Linked DNA regions of Homo sapiens: region 2 is linked to region 1. Evidence: fine-mapped expression QTL. Tissue or cell type: putamen. Region 1 holds a variant in brackets; the other region holds the start of a gene. All regions are shown on one strand. Distances are between the middles of the regions.

Evidence for each region. PIP is the estimated chance that this variant, and not a neighbour inherited with it, causes the effect.
Region 2: it holds the start of VPREB3, and the variant in region 1 is fine-mapped to the expression of VPREB3 in putamen (GTEx, PIP above 0.99). The same link has a PIP of 0.9 or more in nucleus accumbens.

The regions. Positions count from the first base shown.
Region 1 is chr22:23,813,008-23,818,152 of GRCh38, forward strand. It overlaps SMARCB1 (SWI/SNF related BAF chromatin remodeling complex subunit B1), which reads left to right. Exons shown (of 9, transcript NM_003073.5): 6 at 3,763-3,929. Among named protein-coding and RNA genes, the nearest start is that of DERL3, 23 kb to the right of the region's middle. RefSeq lists enhancers at 2,923-3,424, 3,425-3,926. The variant C/A (reference allele first, on the strand shown) is at 3,121.
Region 2 is chr22:23,752,435-23,757,579 of GRCh38, forward strand. It overlaps VPREB3 (V-set pre-B cell surrogate light chain 3), which reads right to left and starts at 1,991. Exons shown (of 2, transcript NM_013378.3): 1 at 1,881-1,991; 2 at 309-764. The coding sequence starts at 1,929. The coding sequence ends at 442. RefSeq lists enhancers at 464-1,137, 1,914-2,414 and a silencer at 2,034-2,083.

The sequences.
Region 1 (5,145 bases):
GTGCCCTGCCACCACACCCAGCTAACTTTTTGTATTTTTAGTAGAGACGGGGTTTCACAGTGTTAGCCAGGAATGTCTCGAACTCCTGACCATGTGATCCACCCGCCTCGGCCTCCCAAAGTGCTGGGATTACAGGCGTGAGCCACAGAGCCTGGCCTTCTGTTGCTAGCATTTAATAGTGAAAGGTTGCATGCTTTCTGCCAGAGACCAGGAACAAGCCAAATATGTCTGCTGTCACTATTCTTATTCAACATAGTGTTGGAAGTTCTAGCTAATCCAGTAAGCTGAGAAAAGGAAATAAAAGACGTGTAGATTGGAAAGGAAGAAATAAAATCCTATTTGCAGATGACATGATTGTCCGTGTAGAAAATCCCAAGGGATCTACAGAAAACTTGGAGAACTAATAACTGAATTCCCCAGGGTCACAAGATACAAGGGATACAAGGTAAACATGCAGAAATCCATTTTATTTCTATATGCCATTAATGAGTACCTAGACACAAATTAAAAATACATTACCATTTATCATCACTCAATAAAAAAAGGAATACTTAGGTATAAATCCAACAAAACATTTACAGGACTTATATACCAAAAACTATAAAACACTGACGAAAGTAATGAAGGAAGACCTAAATAAGTAGACATATCATATTCATGGATTAAAAGACTCAAGATGATGTCAGTTTTCCCCAAATTGATATACAGATTTAATGCAATTTCTGTGAAAATCCCAGCAAGATTTTTTTTGTAGATAAGATGGTTCTAAGATTTATATGGAAAGGCAAAGAAACTAAAATAGCTAAAGCAATTTATTTATTATTATTATTATTTTTTTTTGAGATGGAGTTTTGCTCTTTTGCCCAGGCTGGAGTGCAGTGGCATGATCTCTGCTCACTGTAACCTCCACCTTCCGGTTTCAAGCGTTTCTCCTGCCTTAGTCTCCCGAGTAGGTGGGATTACAGGTGCCCGCCACCATGCCTGGCTAATTTTTGTATTTTTAGTAGAGACAGGGTATTACCATGTTGGCCAGGTTGGTCTCAAACTCCTGAGCTCAGGCAGTCCGCCTGTCTCAGCCTCCCAAAGTGCTGGGATTACAGGCATGAGCCACCACACCCGGCCAGCAATTTTGAAAAACAGTAAAGTGGGAGTAATCATTCTACCCAATCTCAAGGCTTACTATATAGCTACGATAATCAAGGCTGTGTGGTATTGGTGGAGTGACATACCGTGATGGAACAGAATTGAGAATCCAGAAACAGACCCACACAAACGTGCCCTCCTGATTTTTACAAAGATGCAAATGTGATTCAATGGAGGAAAGACAGCTCATTCAACAAAATGGCACTGGAGCAATTAGACAATCATAGGCAAGTAGGCTGGCACAGTGGCTTACGTCTGTAATCCTAGCACTTCGGGAGGCTGAGGTGGGCAGATCACCTGAGATCACGAGTTCGAGACCAGCCTGACCAAGATGGAGAAACCTCGTCTCTACTAAAAATACACAATTAGCTGGGCGTGGTGGCGCATGCCTGTAACCCCAGCTACTCGGGCGGGTGAGGCAGGAGAATCGCTTGAACCTGGAAGGCAGAGGTTGCTGTGAGCCGAGATCACGCTGTTGCAATCCATCCTGGGCAACAAGAGTGAAACTCTGTCCCAAAAAAGCAACAACAACAAAAAAGGCTGGGCACAGTGGCTCACGCCTGTAATCCCAGCACTTTGGGAGGCTGAGGTGGGCGGATCACCTGAGGTCAGGAGTTTGAGACCAGCTTGACCAACGTGGAGAAACCTCGTCTCTACTAAAAATACAAAATTAGCCGGGCATGGTGGCGCATGCCTGTAATTCCAGCTACTTGGGAGGCTGAGTCAGGAGAATTGCTTGAACCCAGGAGGCCGAGGTTGCTGTGAGCCAAGATCACGCCGTTGCGCTCCAGCCTGGGCAACAAGAGCAAAACTCCGTCTCAAAAAAAAAAAAAAAAGGCAAAAGACAGGAAGAGAAATTTCACTAAAGAAGTTATATAGGTGGCAAATAAACATTGAAAAGCTTTTCCACATTGTTAGCCTTAGGGAAATGCAGATTAAAATTACACTGTTATTCCACATCTTTAAAAAGTGGTGACAGCATCAGATGCTGGCGAGGATGTGGAGGAACTGGGTCACTCACAAGCTGCTGATGGGAATGTAAAGTGGCTGGAAAACTGCCCTAGAAAACAGTGTGGCAATTTCTGTTAAAAACTAAACATGCGGCCAGGCGTGGTGGCTCACACCTGTAATCCCAGCACTTTGGGAGGCCGAGGCGGGCGGATCACGAGGTCAGGAGATCGAGACCATCCTGGTTAACATGGTGAAACCCTGTCTCTTCTAAAAATACAAAAAATTAGCTGGGCGTGGTGGTGGCTGCTTGTAGTCCCAGCTACTCGGGAGGCTGAAGCAGGAGAATGGCGTGAACCCGGGAGGCGGAGCTTGCAGTGAGCCGATATAGCGCCACTGCACTCCATCCTGGGCGACAGAGCGAGACTCCGTCTCAAAACAAACAAAAAACTAAACATGCAACCAGTGTACCTTGAGCATTTATCCTGGAGAAATGAAGACATGTTTATACAATAGCCTACACGTGGATGTTCATAGCAGCTTTATTTATAATAGCGGGAAACTGGAAATGATCTAGATAGCCTTCAGTGAGTGAATAGTTAAAGTGAGGCCCCTTCGTACCACAGAATGTCACTTGGCAGTAAAAGGAAGTGACAATCTGGATGAATCACTGGATACAGATACAGTCCTCTATCTTGTCTTTTTTGGAGGAAACTGGGCGCAGTGTGCATGGAATTTCTCTGTGTTGTTTCTTGCATCTGTACATGAATCTACAATTACTTAAAAATTTTAAAATGCTCTGGGCAGTGTATTCACTGGGTGTTTACCCCGTGCACCTGAGGTTCCTGCTGTTGCTGCCCCGCAGGCTGTTAGGATGCTGGTCTCCAGCGTGTCTTTAGGGCAGGGAGGAGATAGTGGGGCTGTGGTCTGTTAGGCCGACCTGCTTCTTGATGATGGAATCCTACTGTCTGCTCTGAGGCAATTTTTCTTGGCTTTTTCAGCTTATTCCTGCAAGGCGTCTTGTCAGTA[C/A]GGTCTGGGTGGAGCAGGGAGAGAATGTTGACTGAGAGGACCTTGCTGAGGTCTGGCTGGCCACAGATGGTCCCTGTGAGCTCCCATCTGGTACAATTCCTTTTCCAGGATCCGGGATCTGTAGGGACCTCCACGCTTGTGACCTTGTTGAGGCCCTGCTGCTGCTACTGCAGTCACAGGCCTGGAAATCGCTGTGGCTTGGCACAGTGTGTTTTGCTCACATGAGGCCTGGTATTGGGCCAGCCTCTGTGCCATCACGTCTGCCACCAGTTCAGCACAGAGGGGAGTAGAGAGATGGCACGCAAGCTTTGATGTGCCTTTGCTGGCCTCGCCTGGATCATCTCATTAGTTGGGATAATCTCATGCGCCCACCCAGCTATGAGTGGAATGAGGGAAGTGTTTATGGCCATGACCACCCCCAGGGCATGGAGCAGGAGGTCTGTGCAGGATGAGGGCTGGGGGCCTGCTAGTCATGTGCTTCCTCCTTCCACTCCCAGTTTCCAGGAAGGCCACCCCCAGTGCCCTGGTTGTCCTCTCCTGCATCCGGAGATGTTTGGCTTCAAAGAAGAAGGGGTGAGGGAGGCCGGTCCATGCCCAAGCATGGTGCAATCTCTTGGCATCCCTTCCCTCTCCTGATTTCAGAGAAGTTGATGACGCCTGAGATGTTTTCAGAAATCCTCTGTGACGATCTGGATTTGAACCCGCTGACGTTTGTGCCAGCCATCGCCTCTGCCATCAGACAGCAGATCGAGTCCTACCCCACGGACAGCATCCTGGAGGACCAGTCAGACCAGCGCGTCATCATCAAGGTAGGTGACTTCTCACCCAGCACTGGAGCCTTCCTGGCCCTCAGGGTGGGTGTCATCATGGAGCACTGAGGGTACACCAAGGCCTCAGCAGAAGCCCGTCTTTGGGTTCCATATCATCTGGAAAGTCATAACACCTGGCTTTGCTCCCTGCAATCCCCCAGGAAGGGCATAGGCTGAGTTCTCATAGTAAAGTGTTATATTCCGGACACATTCAGGGGGTGTCTCTGAGGCACTGCCAGGCTCTGAGCAAAGCCCGGAGGTCTAGAGGAGGTGAAGGCAGCTGATTGGCTGGGCCAGGCTGAGTGCTCCAGGGGGGCCTAGTAACCCAATAAGATGCTGCCTTAGTGGCCATATTACAGGTGAAGAGGTGGGCACGTGGAGAGCTGAGATCACCTGCGGAAGTTGCAAACTGGCCAGTTGAGAAATGGTGAGGCTGGCGATTGGGCGCAGGCCTGCACCCTGCAGAGCCTATAGCATAATCCTTGCTGTGCTGAGCCGCCACTGCCAGACTATGCCTTGAGGGTGAGGGGAGCTTTGAAAATAGGAAGATATGAGAAGTAGGTGAAATTGGCACATGTGATGACCCTAAAAAGGTCAGTGGTTTGGTTAGATCTGATGCTGTGCCTTTGGCTTCCATTTTAGGAAAACATTGATGTATAAAAATAAGAGCCATGTTACAAAGGGTTCCTGAAAATAGTCTTTGGGGTCGAGGAGCCTCGGGAGGGATGCCTCCTGTGACTGAGGGATGCCTCTGCCCCGTGCACCAGATGGAGCCTGGGCCGACTTCTTCCCACTGTGGTTCTCCGTGGCACTTTACTAAGATTTTGGAAAATAACGTGGGGGAATCACCAGCAACTTCCTCTGTGGTCCCCCAAGTAACAAACAACTAAATATCTTATTTAGTTAGTCAAGACAGTCTCACTGTGTCGCCCAGGCTGGAGTGCAGTGGCTCGATCTTGACTCATTGCAACCTCCACCTCCCGGGTTCAAGCAATTCTCCTGTCTCAGCCTCCTGAGTAGCTAGGATTACAGTTGCCCGCCACTAAGCCAGGCTAATTTTTGTATTTTTAGTAGAGACAGGGTTTCACCATATTTGTCAGTCTGGTCTCAAACTCCTTACCTCAGGTGATCCACCCACCTCAGCCTCCCAAAGTGCTGGGATTACAGGCATGAGCCACCGCACCTGGCCGAAATACTTTGGGTGTGTGTGTGTGTG
Region 2 (5,145 bases), 61 kb before region 1:
CACCCTAGAGCCATAACCCTTGGACCATAACCAGCCATGCAGAGTTGGGGGCGGCAAGGGCTGGTTCCTTTTTCTCCCTCCGGCTCCTCAGGTCACAGGAAGGTCAGGCTACCAGTTTGAGCCCCCAGGGGGCCATGGTGGGGGAGTCTGGGCCATGCCCCAATAGTCTCAGGTGCTTCCTCTTTGACAACAGTCCCCAGAATCCCCATTCCCCCGCACACTGCTCCCCACCCCAGGAGTGGGTCTTCGACTCCCAGACCCACCACAGTCATTTTTCTCAGCCAGGATCTTATGACCCTCACAATAGCTGTTGTTGACATGTTGAATATTATTAACCCATTTTACAGAGGGGAAGCAAGGCTCAGAGAAAGTTTAAAAGGGACCCAAGGTCAGGGGCAGAAATGGGAGGCAGAGGGGAGGCACCCATCTCACACCCCACCCCTAGGGACTAAAGCCGTAGCCAACAGAGCAGTAGTAATCCGCGTCGTCTTCAGGCTGCACGGGACTAATGGTGAGGACACAGGCATTGTGGGCCTCATCCTTGGCTGCCGAGAATCGATCGGGGATGTCAGCAGGCCGGTGGTGATCCTCCTCCGAGCGGTAGTAGAGGAGATATCGAGGGGCACTGCCTGCCCGCTGCTGGTACCAGGACACACCGTAGTCCCTGATGGTGACGTGCTGGGGGCTGAGCGTGCAGGAGAGTTGAGCCACTTGGCCTGGGAAGACCAGCAGTGCATCCAGCTGGGCCAGGACTGTCTGGGAAACTGCGAGACACAAACCCACTCAGCCTGAGCCCCTTCCCTCCCACCCCTGCCCTGTGAAGGCTTGGTTGGACTCCATGGAGACTCCCAGTCCCAAAGGGCTCATAGCCCAGTGCTATGGGATTAGCAATGAACGGGGTGCAGGAGGCCTGGTTCTGTGTGACTTAGGGTGCCCTATCTGGACCTCCATCTCCCTTTGTGAGTGAGGGGTTTGGAGTTAGCCCCCAAATCTCCATTAGTGCCATATCCTCAAGGATCTGTGTTCAGTTAAAGGCCCAGAGCTCAGAAGGTTGGACTAGCAGCCTCTAGGTCCCTCTGCTACCCACCCACGTTTCTCTGCAGAACTGCACCCCTCTCCCCCACTTCCCCGCCCACTTCACTTCAGCTCTTCCAAACCCTGAATACAGACTAACCACCCCCAGGAACCTCCTGGGCTGTCCCACACATCAACTCAGCCTCAGGCAACTGGCTGCAGGGACCCTCTCAGGGAGGTTAGATTGCCTCAGGCCCTGTGGGGTAGGGACCAACCCACAATAGCTTCCCCTGTGAAAAACTAAGAAGGAGACCCAAAGTCAGAGTCCAGGGCTCTAGTGATCTGGTCATTCACGAATGAGAAAACCAAGGCCCACACAGGGAAGTGATTTGCCCCAGGTCAAGGGCAGAGCTGTCTGAAGCCAGGTCACCCCTCTACCTGAATACGCCTCCCAGCCAGGTGCAGTGGCTCAAGCCTGTAATCCTAGCACTTTGGGAAGCTGAGGTGGGCGGATCACCTGAGGTCAGGAGTTTGAGACCAGCCTGACCAACATGAAGAAACCTTGTCTCTACTAAAAATACAAAATTAGCCAGGCGTGGTGGCGCATGCCTGTAATCCCAGCTACTCAGGACGCTGAGGCAGAAGAATCGCTTGAACCTGGGAGGCAGAGGTGCAGTGAGCCGAGATTGCACCGTTGCACTCCAGCCTGGGCAACAAGAGCAAAACTCCGTCTCAAAAAAAAAAAAAATACCCCTCCCAGGACCTGCCCTACTGTCCCCATCGATTTGCCTCCTTGCAGGGGCCTTCTGGGGCCAGTACTGTTCCCCACCCCACACCCAGGTGACTGAGGCCCAGGAAAGATTCACCTGACAGGAAGGTCCCCATCAGAAGGAAGCTGAGGCACCGGCAGGCCATGGCCAGAGGCAGGGAGGCAGGCAAGTAGAAGTTCTGCAAGGCTATATGCTCCAGGTGCTTTGGGGCACAGGGCTGGGAAGGCCACTGGACCACAACAGAGCATGCAAATCAGCCTATTGACTGAGGAAGGAGGGGCGGTGACTGGGGCCCAATGGCCAAGCCTTTTCTTCCCAAATGTCAGGGTCCTGGCACCACAAGGCCTTCCAAGAATAGGAGCCCAGAAGTCCTCATGTGCAGTTATAGCAGGTGGAAATCTACTTTTTTATTGAGGTACAACTAGCATACAGTAAAGTGCATAAATCTTAAGTGCATAGCTTGATGATTTTATGTATATGTATGTATGCCCACAAGCATGCATGCATGCATGTGCGCGCACACGCACACGCGCGCACACACACACACACACATACACACGCACACACAGACCCCTGCAACCTCCACCCAGATCAGGATTTAGAAAATCTCGGCTGAGGGCGGTGGCTTACGCCTATAATCCCAGCACTTTGGGAGACGGAGGCAGGTGGATCACTTGAGGTCAGGAGTTTGAGACCAGCTTGGCCAACATGGTGAAACTCCATATTTTTTGTACTAAAAATACAAAAATTAGCTGGGCGTGGTGGTGCACACCTGTAGTCCCAACTACTGGAGAGGCTGAGGCAGGAAAATCGCTTGAACCCGGGAGGTGGAGGTTGCAGTAAGCCAAGATTGCTTCACTGCACTTCAGCTTGGGCGACAGAGCGAGACTATGTCTCAAAAAAAAGAAAAGAAAAAAGAACACCTCCATCTCCCCTGAAGGCCCCTCAGTTAATGACATGCACCCTCAAGGGAATCATCATTCTGACTTCTATCACCTTAGATTAGTTTGTGCCTGCTCTAGAACTTTAACTATAAGTGGAATGATAGTGTGCCCTCTTTTGTGCCTGCTTCTTTTGTTGAACATGATGGGAGTGATCCATGTGTGTGCAGCAATATTTCATTCATGCCCATAGCTGTGTGTAATCCATTGTGTGAATGCACTGTAATCAGGTTTTCCATTCTCCTATTGTTAGATATTTGGATGCTCTCCAGTCTTTGGCCATTACAAATACAACTTCTGTGAATGTCTCTGTCGATGTCTTTTGGTGTACTGGTGCACTCATTTGTGCTGGAGAGACACCCAGGAATGGAGCTGCCAGACGGCAAGGAAAGAATACATTTAGCTTTACTAGGTCTGCCAGGGTTCCTGATGTGTTTGTAACAATCTGGTCTTCCACCAGCAGAGTAAGAGAGTTTACTGTGACTTCGCATCCTCGCCAGCCCTTGACATTATCACAACCTTTAATTTGCCAGGATTCCAAGTAGCTGAGGTGGTTTTGAACTTGGGTTTGAATCCCAGCTCCTGCTTTTCTTAACTGCATGACTTCAGCCAAGTTACTTCCCCCCACTGTGCCTCGGTTTTCTCATCTGGAACATAAAGTTAAGCATAATGCCAGCCTGAGGATTGTGAAAATGCAAAGATGGGACCTATTTGCTCAGGGCTGGCCACAGTGGGTGGATTAACCATGTCATTTATTTTCTGTATTCCAGTGCTGTGTAATCTGGGCCCTTGCTGACCATTGAGGGACTAACCCTCCCAGGGTTACCCAGTCCCTATAGATAGTAAATAACTTTTTTTTTTTTTTCTGAGACGGAGTCTCACTCTGTCGCCCAGGCTGGTGTGCAGTGGCGCGATCTTGGCTCGATGCAAGCTCCGCCTCCTGGGTTCACGCCATTCTCCTGCCTCAGCCTCCCGAGTAGCTGGGACTACAGGTGCCCGCCACTGCGCCTGGCAAATTTTTTATATTTTTAGTAGAGATGGGGTTTCACCATGTTAGCCAAGATGGTCTCGATCTCCTGACCTTGTGATCTGCCCGCCTTGGCCTCCCAAAGTGCTGGGATTACAGGTGTTAGCCACCGCGCCCAGCCGATAGTAAATAACTCTTTTTCTTTTTTTTTTTTTTGAGACAGAGTCTCACTCTGTCACCCAGGCTGGAGTGCAGTGGTGCGATCTTGGCTCACTGCAAGCTCTGCCTCCGGGTTGACGCCATTCTCCTGCCTTAGCCTCCCGAGTAGCTGGGACGACAGGCGCCCACCACCATGCCCGGCTAATTTTTTGTATTTTTTAGTAGAGACGGGATTTCACCGTGTTAGCCAGGATGGTCTCAATCTCCTGACCTTGTCATCTGCCCACCTTGGCCTCCCAAAGTGCTGGGATTACAGGTGTGAGCCACTGCACCTGGCCAACTCTTTTTCTTTTTTATCAGACAGAGTCTCGTTCTGTCCCCCAGGCTGGAGTACAAAAGCACCATCTCCACTCACTGCAACCTCCGCCTCCCGGGTTCAAGCGATTTTCCTGCCTCAGCCTCCCAAGTACCTGGGATTACAGGCATGCGCCACCAGGCCCAGCTAATTCTTTTTGTATTTTTAGTAGAAATGGGATTTCACCATGTTGGCCAAGATAATTTCGGTCTCCTGACGTCAAATGGTCCACCTACTTCGGGCTCTCAAAGTGCTGGGATTACAAGCTTGAGCCACCTCACCCAGCCATGATAGTAAATAACTCTTCTGAAAGCACGCTTTTCAAATGCAAGTCAACTAATCCCAACCCCCTCAACTCCCTCCTTAATCTGCTCTTATACTCCACCTGCCCTAATCTCTCCAGGGCCACGCACCAGACAACTAGGGACAGCCCATGCCCCAGAATCCACTTTAATTATTCAGTCCTAAGCCTGCCCAGCGTTGGAAACCACAATAGAGGCCCTTGCCCACAGTTCCTCCCTCTCCCTCTGCCTGCCCATCAACTGTGGTGCTTCCTGTGTGGCCCACCTTGGTGTACTCCCTGTTTTAGGGGAACTTTGAGTAACAAGCTATCTTTTCTTTTTCTTTTTTTTTTTTTTTTTGAGACGGAGTTTCGCTGTTTGTTGCCCAGGCTGGAGTGCAATGGTGCAATCTCAGCTCACTGCAACCTCCGCCTCCCAGGTTCAAGTGATTCTCCTGCCTCAGCCTCCCAAGTAGCTGGGATTACAGGCATGAACTGCCACGCCCGGCTAATTTTTTTTGTTTTTTTTTTTAGTAGAGACGGGGTTCACCATGTTGGTCGGTTTCACCATGTTGGTCAGGCTGGTCTCGATCTCCTGACCTCATGATCTGTTCGCCTTTGCCTCACAAAGTGCTGGGATTAAAGGCGTGAGTCACTGC